2 separate regions of the Homo sapiens genome follow, and region 2 is linked to region 1. The links come from fine-mapping of genetic effects on gene expression. A gene starts in region 1. The other region holds a variant in brackets. All regions are shown on one strand. Distances are between the middles of the regions. Region 1 holds the start of TCTN3 (tectonic family member 3). Region 2 overlaps ENTPD1 (ectonucleoside triphosphate diphosphohydrolase 1).

Region 1 (5,383 bases):
GCTGGATGTTATTTTATGGATAGTGGGAAGTAATGGAGGTTTCTCAGTAAGGAAGCAACATAATGCAATGTTATGGAAAGATTTATCTAGTGAAATGATTCTCCACAACTGTGTATACTGTGTGTAGATGCTATGTGTGTATATGTGAGGAAGGTAGGTAAATAATCAGAACCAAAGGGAAATTTTTGCCTTTTTCATACTAAACATGAATGTACACCCCACCCTCGTTCAGGAAAAAGTTCATTGATGTAATGAACCATAACTACTATTGGAAGTGGCCATATTCCTCCCTCAGGTGTTTAAAGAAAGTTCAGATCCACTGATCCCGAAGGAGTGTGCAGGATGGTGTCGGGGGCAGGAGTGGGGATCAAAAGCAGGGAGCACCAGGTAGGTGCCATTGCAATAACCCTGGAGCATGATCATAAGGCTGGATTTAAAAGGCAGTAAAATGTTTGGAAAAGAAGAGACAACTTTCTTTTTTTGAGACAGACTCTCGTTCTGTTACCCAGGTTGGAGTGCAGTGGTGCAATCTCAGCCTCCCAGGCTCACATGATTCTCCTGCCTCAGCCTCCCAACTAGCTGAGATTACAGGTGCCCACTACCATGCCTGGATAATTTTTTGTTTTTTTAGTAGAGACAGGGTTTCACCATGTTGGTTAGGCTGGTCTCAAACTCCTGACCTCAAGTGATCTGCCCACCTCAGCCTCCCAAGTGCTAAGATTACAGGAGTGAGCCACCGCGTCAGGCCACAACCTTATCTGAAAATGAAGTATTCATCTTGTTCCCTTTACCCTATTACCATCTAAATAACCACAAGGCTTCTGATAACTGCTTTGAAATTCAAGTCCCCCAAAACCAAAAACTGGTTGTTTTCTGAGACAAATATAGTTTTGCAATTCTTATTAACAGTCAGATGAAATCAGGATGAGGTGACTTCCAGGATGCAAGAGACATTTAAATCCATTTTGTGCAGGAACATTATTTTGCTTCATAGACATTTTAAAAAGATAGATTAGCTTCATATCTTTAGAAATGTTATAGCCATCACCAGCAAATTTCTAAGTCCACTAACCATCCCCAATAATAATAACCTCTAATCTTTATTGTACTCTACAGTTGTAGAGCGCTTTCATATACAAAGCCAATGATATTATTTCTCACTTTACAGTTGAAGAAACGAGCCTGGAAATGCTAAGGGATTTGCCCAAGTCTGTATAGCTGGTAAGGAAATGGCAGGACTGAGATCCTAATCTAATGCTCCTCCTACACTGTTGCCTCATGAAATGAAAATAAGGTTGGCATAGACTCATTTGTCAAAGATGTTCATTCAAACATTATTTGGTGCTTACTATGTGTTAGGCACTGGGGATTCAGTTAGTACCCTCATGGAGATTGTAGTAAGTGGGGAATATAGTCTATCTGTGATTATCTGAGTTAAGAGGAATGATTAAAATGATTGAAATTAAAGTTCTTTATGAGTTTTCTGATCCATAGCCAACAGAACATAAAAAGTTGCAAATGTGGCCAGGCGCGGTGGCTCACACCTGTAATCCCAGCACTTTGGGGGTCGAGGTGGGTGGCCCATGAGGTCAAGAGATCAAGACCATCCTGGCCAACATTGCAAAACCCCGTCTCTACTAAAAATACAAAAATTAGCTGGTCATGGTGGCACACACCCATAGTCCCAGCTACTCGGGAAGCTAAGGCAGGAGAATCACTTTAATCCGGGAGGTGGAGGTTGCAGTGAGCTGAGATCGTGCCACTGCACTGCACTCCTGGCGATAGGTGGAGGCTCCGTCTCAAAAAAAAACAAAAATGCAAATGTATTCCGTAATAAGAGAGAAGAGGCAGAAAGAGGCGTAGAGATTCAAAGGACAAAAAAAAAAAAAGTTTAAAAAAAAGAAATGGAAAAAAGGCCAGAATAAAAGCCAATTCTCAATAAATGTTAGACCAAGCTTGTCCAACCTGCAACCCACCGGCCGCATGCAGCCCAGGACGGCTTATGAATGCAGCCCAACAACACAAATTTGTAAACTTTCTTAAAACATTTGACATTTTTTTTGCTTTTTTTTTGTTGTTGTTTTTAACTCATCAGCTATCGTTAGTGTATTTTACGTGTGGCCCAAGACAATTCTTCTTCCAATGTGGGCCAGGGAAGACAAAATATAACACTCCTGTGTTAGAAAATGAGAACAACCAACATGTTTCTACTCACAGTTGTTCACATGGACACAAAACTGCCTGATTCCATTAGAATCCATGAAAACTCTTGAAGGAAACGGGGAATTACTCCTGAAGATAACAGAGTTGTCTACACAAACCCAGCTTGAAGACCTGTGAGGAAAGAGGAGGGAGAAGATATATTTAGAAGGGGCGGGGCAGGTCCAAAAAAGAGTGTCCCAGCAATATCGGCCAGATGATGCCAAAGAGGACTCCTTGGGCACCTATAGGACGACACGAAGGTCTTATTCTACTGGCCAGCCCTGCTCTAGAGAATCAGAAAAGGCAATTCCTAGGAAAAACCAAGGGAATGTCCTAGGAGTGGAAGTACGGGTGGGAGGCACAAAGACTAACTCTTCTTACATCCAAATGTTACCCGTTGTAGGCCCCAAACCCCTTTAGGATTCAGTCTGAGCAACGAAGCTCACCTTACGCTGCCTGGAAGGCAGAAGGAGAAAACTGTCCTCGGATGGAGAAGATAGCAGTCCCTGTCGCAGCAGCAATTTATATCGCAGGCTCCAGGAGTCAAGTCACAGACACAGATCGGTAAGACTATGAAAGTACGACACAGAGTGAGTGGGATGAAGATCCCCAAACTCTCCCAGGTGCTCACCCTCCTTCTTCCGACAGCCCCACTCCTGCTTTGTGGCAGCTCAACTTTGCTCACAGAATTTTAGATCTCAGAAGTAAGTTTCCACCCCCACAACGTTTTCCCTCACCTGGGAAGAGGTCCACAGTCCTATTCCCAGGGGCCGAGGGAGTCACGAGAGTAGGGACCACTGTAGGGAGTCCAGGCACGGCCGGGCGAGTTGCAGTCGCCTCTGAAGGGGACTGGAGGGTTCCGCCATCCGTCCCTCGCTGCAGCTCCAAAGACGTGGGCACTGCCCCTGATGGGGAGGAAGAGGGCTGAGGCCGGACGCCATCGGGGAACACCAGAAAGAACACTTGCAGGAGCGCGAGCTGTGGGGTGCGCATGGGGCATTCAGGGCCTCCGGGTCCGACGTAGGCCTCCGCGGTCTCCAATCGCATTGCCAGAGCGTGGGTGGGAGGAGTCGCATAGCGTCTGACGCCATCCGCGTGCCTCTTCTCATTGGCTCATGAGAAGGCTGAGAGCTCTTCAACCAATCGAAAGTGGGGTTGTTACAGCTCTTTCAGTGTCCTTCGGTCTGCGCCCTCCTCCTTAACGCGGGCCGGGCCGTGCCTCCGTTGCCTGGCAACCGTCAGTGACGAAGAAGCCCTTGCGCCTTCCTTCCGCTAGGTGGCGGTAGGAGTTCGGCGGACCGAGAGGTTCCGCGCCCACTTCGCGGCCCAGAGGACTGAGCCCGGCCTCCGGTGCAAGGAAACCCCAGAGGCCGGAACTAGAATTGCAAATTTTTTTTCACCCCGGATTCCAACGGTGAGAAACCCTTTCTATGGAAGAATAATGTTCTCAGGTGGGGGAAACACACCTAAGGTCACATACCTTAAAAAACAGTCTCCTCTAAATATGGCTTTTTTAAAAAAAAAAAAAACACATTAGAAATAATGTTCATTCAGCTCCTTACATTTTAACATTGAGAAATTTTGAAAACCCTAAAGAAATGCATCAAATCATTAAAGATGGACTGCATGTTTGTTGTTAGAAAAAGCAGTGAGAGAAAAATAAGAAAAAAGGGCAGGAAAAATGTGAGAAAATAGGGAGAGAAAGAATAAAAAAAAGAAACATTGTCTAGGAGGTGAGAAAATAAGATGGAGGAATGGAAATAGAAGATTTTTTTCCCCGTGTTAATGGCAAATTTTTTAAGCCTCTCTAGGAGGTTTTTGTTCTTCCCGGGAATGGCGTGCCTCTTCCGATTCCCCACAGCAGCGCGGGCCATGGGACTTTCCTTCGGTATTGGAAATGTACCGTAGCTGCACTGTCCAGCATGGTAGTCACCGGCCTTATGTGGCAATTGTGCGCTTGAAATGTGGCTAGCGTGACTGAGGAGCTGATTTTTTTTTTTTTTTTTTTTTTTGAGACGGTGTTTCGCTCTGTCGCTCAGGCTGGAGTGCAGTGGTGTGATCTCAGCTCACTGCAACCTCTGCCTCTAGGATTCAGGTGATTCTTCTGTTTCAGCCTCCTGAGTAGCTGGGATGACAGGCACGCGCCACCACGCCCGGCTAATTTTATTTTTATTTTTAGTAGAGATGGGGTTTCACCATGTTGTCCAGGCTGGTCTCGAATTCCTGACCTCAAGTGACCCTCCCGCCTTGGCCTCCTAAAGTGCTGGGATTACAGCTGTGAGTCGCTGTGCCTGGCCTGAATTTTTAATTTTTAAATTGTAATTAATTCAAAGTTAACCACAGACGTGAGTAGCTACCATATTGTACAGTGGGACTGTAGATGATCAAAATATTGCTCCTCCTAGACCCAGTATTTTCCTATGTCCACGGTTCTGACATCTGGATTATTTTGGATATTTAGTTTTAGTATATAAATTAACATCTGTTAAGAGTTATCTAAAATCTAGTACACTTACCTAAAATCTGGTCAACACCTCCCTTTACAAGTGAATCATTTAACTCAGGTAAGTTTTAGGACATTTGACTTTACTTGAATTCTCTTACAAGATCTTTATTTTCTAATGTTTTGAAGTCAGTAGCTAAAAGTCTCTCTGTGTTATAAATATTTTCAAATATGTTTTTATGTTGTTGTGTGATAGACAGCTATGGGAGATATGTGTTTGGTCTTAAAACATTTATTTACCTTATTAGTAATTTCTATAGGAAAAGGCCAAGTTCATATTATTCAGATTATATGATCATATGTATATACTAGAATGTAAATTCCAAAAATAGTGAGTTTTGTCTGTTTTGTTCATTGAAATATCCCCATGCCTAGAACAGTGTCTGGGACATGTTAGATGTGCATTAAATATTTTAAAAATATATTAAAAATTGTTTTGTTGAACTCTTTAGAATTAATCCTTAGGAATATTTTTAGTTTATTTTATTTCAGGATTGTATTTCTTTCTATAAAATTTCTTCTTTTTGCAACCAATTTACCATGTAATGATCTTTCTATAAAATTTCCATTGTACATCTGATCAGAGACTATTTTAGATTTCAAAGTTTGGAATTTAAATGGCAACTCTCAAATAGTGTTAAATTATTTCTGAATTTATTAGCGTTGGCAAAAGACTGT
Region 2 (5,383 bases), 130 kb after region 1:
GCTACTGTATTGGACAACACAGATATAGAATATTGCCTTGCTGTAGAAAGTTCTATTGGACATTGCCACTTTAAAGCATACTCTTGAATGATAACTCTGAAGTCATTCAAAACTAAGTTTAATGAATAGGGTGTATGATAAAACATTTTATAAAATCTAGAATAAGAAACAAAAAAACTTTTTTTCTTGCATGGTTTGTAAACTAGTACCAGGATCATCCCAAATATCATGGGCTACTAAACTGGTTTGAGTAGTTTATTGAAATAAATGTATTTGCTTCCAAAAATGACCATTTAAAAGATAACACTTATTTGGATATTTGTACTGATACATGTTTTTTGTTTGTTTGTTTGTTTTTTGTTTCTTTGTTTGGGGTTTTTGTTTGTTTCTTTTTCAAGATGGAGTCTCGCTCTGTCGCCCAGGCTGGAGTGCAGTGGCACGATCTCGGCTCACTGAAAGCTCCACCTCCTGGGTTCACGTCGTTCTCCTGCCTCAGCCTCCCAAGTAGCTGGGACTACAGGTGCCCGCCATCACGCCCGGCTAATTTTTTTGTATTTTTAGTAGAGACGGGGTTTCACCATGTTAGCCAGGATGGTCTTGATCTCCTGACCTTGTGATCTGCCTGCCTCAGCCTCCCAAAATGCTGGGATTACAGGCGTGAGCCACCGTGCCCGGCTGATACATGTGTTTTGAGAGCACACAATGACATGACTTTATGACCATACTTCATTCAGCAGTTCTTCATTCATTTTTTATAAATTTATGCATCGACAATTATTTATTACACTCCAGTCTGGCTGACAGAGTAAGACTCTGTCTCAAAAAAAGTAAAATAAAAAATATTCATTGTCTGTGTTAGGCACTGGGCTACACAATAGGGAAGGCAGTATATAGATATGACTGAGCTTACCATCTGGGGAAGCAAACATATTTAATAACACAAATTATTAATTGTAATTATGATAAATTGCCACCAAATGAAAGTTTTGGGGCCAGGCAAGTCTTCCCTGAAAAAATGATACTAAAATAATATCTGAAGAATGATTGGAAGTTAGCTGGGAAAGACATAGGTAAAGGGTAGTCCAGGCAGGGCCGAGCACGGTGGCTCATGCCTGTAATCGAAGCAGTTTGGGAGGCCGAGGTGGGCAGATTGCCTGAGCTCAGGAGCTTGAGACCACCCTGGGCAACATGGTGAAACCCAATCTCTACTAAAATACAAAAAATTAGCTTGGTATGGTGGCGCGTACTTGTAATCCTAGCTACTCAGGAAGCTGAGGTGCGAGAATCACTTGGGCCCCAGAGGCGGAGGTTGCAGTGAGCCAAGATCTGCCACTGCACTCTAGCTTGGGCTACAGAGTGAGACGCCAACTCAAAAAAAAAAAAAAAAAAAAAATTCCAGGCAGAAGGAAAGCAGGTGCAAGAGTCCTGAAACAAGAAGGAGTTGGATATCTCCTAGGAACTAGTTGGAGAGCAGGAGTGGGCCACGTGTTATATAAAGATGGGGAGGTACGTGGTGCAGGCCCTGCAAGACAGGTTGAGGATTTCAGTTTTAATCCTAAGAGTAGTGGGAAGCTAGTGGTATGATCAGATTTGTTTTTGCAAAGATCACTCTGATTTCAATGAATTAGAGGAGGATGAGATATAGGAGGATACCAGGAAGAGGCTACAAGAAAAATGTGGAAGGAGGGGGAGCCTTTGGGTTCAATTTTTGAAGAATTGTTTTGAGTGTTGGAAAGCCAATGGGAAATGTCAAGAAAGCAGTTGGATAATCAGATTTGGACCTTTCTTTTCTAAGCAGATATCTACTGCTGTGCTCAATAAAAATATAAAACAAGCCAAATTTTAAATTTTCAAAGAGCTACATTTTAGAAAGTAGAAGAAAAGAGGTGAAATTAATTTTAATAATATAATTTATGTGGCCCAATGCATCCAAAATATTACCTCAACATTTCATCAAAATAAATAATTGTTGGCTGGGCGCGGTGGCTCACACTTGTAATCCCAGCACTTTGGGAGGCTGAGGTGGGTGGATCACGAGGTCAGGAGTTCAAGACCAGCCTGGCCAACATAGTGAAATCCCGTCTCTACTAAAAATACAAAAAAAATTAGCCGGGCGTGGTGGTAGGCACCTATAGTCCCAACTACTTGGGAGGCTGAGGCAGGAGAATCCCTTGAACCTGGGAGGTGAAGGTTGCAGTGAGCCAAGATCACGCCACTACACTCTAGCCTGGGTGACAGAGCAAGACTCTGTCTCAAAAAAAAAAAAATTTCGTTTTTGTTTTGTTTTGTTTTGTTTGTTTTTTGAGACGGAGTTTCGCTCTGTAGCACAGGCTGGAGTGCAGTGGTGCGATCTCAGCTCACTACAACCTCTGCCTCTCGGGTTCAAGCAATTCTCCTGCCTCAGCCTCCTGAGTAGCTGGGACTACAGGCACGTGCCACCATGCCCAGCTAATTTTTGTATTTAGTAGAGACGGGGTTTCACCTTGTTGGCCAGGATGGTCTCCATCTCTTGACCTCATGATCTGCCCACCTTGGCCTCCCAAAGTGTTGGGATTACAGGCATGAGCCACCACCATGCCCGGCCAAAAAAAAATTGTTAATGAGATATGTTACATTCTTTTTTCATACTATCTTCAAATTTTAACTTATGGCATATCTCAATTCCAACTAGTCACATTTCAAGTGCTCAATTGCCAGCTATTTGTTACCCTGGTTAAATAGCACAGGCCTAGATTAAAGCTATGTCTCTGATGGCATTGATTGACTGAAGCCTTAGAAATGGATGAGGTCATCTAGGATGGGGTTATAAAATGAGAAGAGAGTCAAGGTCCAAGTCCTGAGAAGCTCTATCATTTAAAGCAGGGGTCCCCAACCCCCAGGCCATGGACCAGTACAGCAGGAGGTGAGGAACACGCGAGCGAGCAAAGCTTCATCTGTATTTACAGTTGCTCCCCATCGCCCACATTACTGCCTGAGCTCCATCTCCTGTCAGATCAGTGGCAGCATTAGATTCTTATAGGACCGCGAACCCTATTG[T/C]GAACTGCACATATGTAGGATCGGGATTGCGTGCTCCTTGTGAGAATCTAATGCCGGATGATCTGTCACTGTCTCCCGTTACCCCCGTATGGGACTGTCTAGTTGCAGGAAAACAAGCTCAGGCCTCCTATTGATTCTACATTATGGTGAGTTGTGTAATTATTTCATTATGTATTACAATGTAATAAAAATAGAAATAAGGTAGTTCACAATAAGTGTAATGCACTTGAATCATCCCAAAACCATTTCCCCCTCCTCACCACCTCTGGGTCTGTGGAAAAATTGTCCTCCAAGAAACTGGTCCCTGGTGTCAAAAAGGTTGGAGACCACTGATTTAAAGGGTGAATAGGGAAAGAATTCCTCCTAAGGCATAATGATAACATTATTTAGTGCTTTGCAGTTATAAATCATTTCCACATGCATTTCCATTTTTTCTTCCCGTGAATACTGTGAAGAATAGAAGGTTATCCCCATTTTTTTTTTTTTTTTTTGAGACGGAGTTTTGCTCTTGTTGCCCAGGCTGGAGCGCAGTGGCATGATCTCGGCTCACCGCAATCTCTGCCTCCCAGGTTCAAGCAATTCTCCTGCCTCAGCCTGCTGAGTAGCTAGGATTATAGGCACACGCCACCACACCCGGCTAATTTTTGTATTTTTACTAGAGACGGGGTTTCTCCATGTTGGTCAGGCTGGTCTTGAACTCCCGACCTCAGTTGATCTGCCCGCCTCGGCCTCCCAAAGTGCTGGGATTACAGGCATGAGCCATCGCACCTGGCCATGCCCATTTTATAGATAACAAAATCAAAGCCTTAGATGTTCTCTCACCCAAGGCAGAGGGGGAGCTAAAACTAGAATCCAGTTTTCTGATCCAAAGACTAATGTTCTTTCCATTTGTCTTAGTGAGTTTTTCCAAACAGCACATCCTATTAACAGAAATTGCATGCAGGATGTTTATTTTGGGAAGTGATTCCAAGGAAACAAGGAAGAAGGGAAAGAGAGAGTTAGGAGCAAATTACCACATTGGGCCACTGAGGCTTGATCCTCCCAGGGACCCTCTCAAGAGCTGTGGAGAGTGAACTTTAGAATTGTCTGCCCTGGGGATTTATCCCCTGGTTCTCATTATCTGTTGGTCAAGGGTTGCTCCCATCTGGTGTTAAGTCCCTGTCACTTCCAGGTTTGCACGTGTGTCAGAGGGGTCATGTGGGTACCACAGGTGACAACTTAGGCAGCAGGAGAGAAGCTGCTGGGCAGAAATAGAGAGATAAGGAGATACTGCTGGGGCTGGAGTAAAAAGTTGGCCAAGATGTAAAATGGTCACAAGAGGTATCTGAAGTATCATTGCACCTCCTGATTTTTGTGGAGGTGAGGGTTCTTCGTACAAATAATTTCAATATAATAGAGATATATTCATGCAGAGACAGTGCTATGGAAGCCCAGAGAAAGAAGCTGCTAATTGTGCCTGTTTACATGGAGGCTTCACAGAGAAGGTAGCCTTGGAGCTGAGTCTTAAGTGCTATGGCTTGAATGTTTGATCCCTCCAAAACTCATGTTGAAACTTAATCCCCAGTATAATAGTATTAAGAGGCAGGGCCTTTAAGAGGTGGTGGGTCATGAGGGCTCTGACCTCATGAATGGATTAATCCATTCATGGATAAATGGATTGAGTTATCACAGGGTGGGTTAGTTATTATTAGAGTAGGTCTGTATTAAAAGCTAGTTTGGCTCTCAGTATGCCCCCTTTGCCATGTGATGCCCTGTGCCACCTCGGGACTCTGCAGAGAGTCCCCACCAGCAAGAAGGCCCTCCTGAGATGTTGCCTCTTGACCTTGGACTTCATAGCTTCTAGAACTGTAAGAAATACATTTATTTTTTAAATAAATTACCCAGTATCAAGTATTCAGTGATAGCAACAGAGAATGGACTAAGACAAATGGTAAGGAGTTTTCTAGAAAGTGGGATAGGACATGTTCCAGACAAAGATTATATCATGTGTTGAAGAGTGACAGCTTGAAATCATATGCAATCCCTGGGGAATCAGCAGCTCAGTATGGTTAGATTGTTGAATATGGGGGCAGGAAGGAGAGGTGGAAGAGGAGGTCCAAGTCTGAGCTTAGTATTTTTGGCTTAAAAGTGGGCATCTCATCCATTAAACTGCAGTGGTGTTCAAGCTTGGATCCATGTTAGAAGCACCTGAGGAGCTTTTCAAAAATATGGCTGGGCCCCATCTCAGGTCAATTAAATCATCTTTGGAGGTTACAGTTAAATAAAAATGGTTCAAAATATTGTAGATCACCGGGCGTGGTGGCTCACTCCTGTAATCCCAGCATTTTGGGAGGCTGAGGCCGGCAGA

Evidence for each region. PIP is the estimated chance that this variant, and not a neighbour inherited with it, causes the effect.
Region 2: its variant is the best candidate, but not a certain one, in a credible set for the expression of TCTN3 in whole blood (INTERVAL, PIP 0.65).

The regions. Positions count from the first base shown.
Region 1 is chr10:95,690,705-95,696,087 of GRCh38, forward strand. TCTN3 (tectonic family member 3) reads right to left here and starts at 3,223. Exons shown (of 14, transcript NM_015631.6): 1 at 2,940-3,223; 2 at 2,649-2,772; 3 at 2,216-2,334. The coding sequence starts at 3,195. It also overlaps a transcript of ENTPD1 not described here. RefSeq lists enhancers at 2,928-3,207, 3,682-4,183.
Region 2 is chr10:95,825,201-95,830,583 of GRCh38, forward strand. All of the region lies in intron 2 of ENTPD1 (ectonucleoside triphosphate diphosphohydrolase 1), which reads left to right. The region is part of intron 4 of ENTPD1-AS1 (ENTPD1 antisense RNA 1); the gene reads right to left. Among named protein-coding and RNA genes, the nearest start is that of ENTPD1, 72 kb to the left of the region's middle. The variant T/C (reference allele first, on the strand shown) is at 3,037.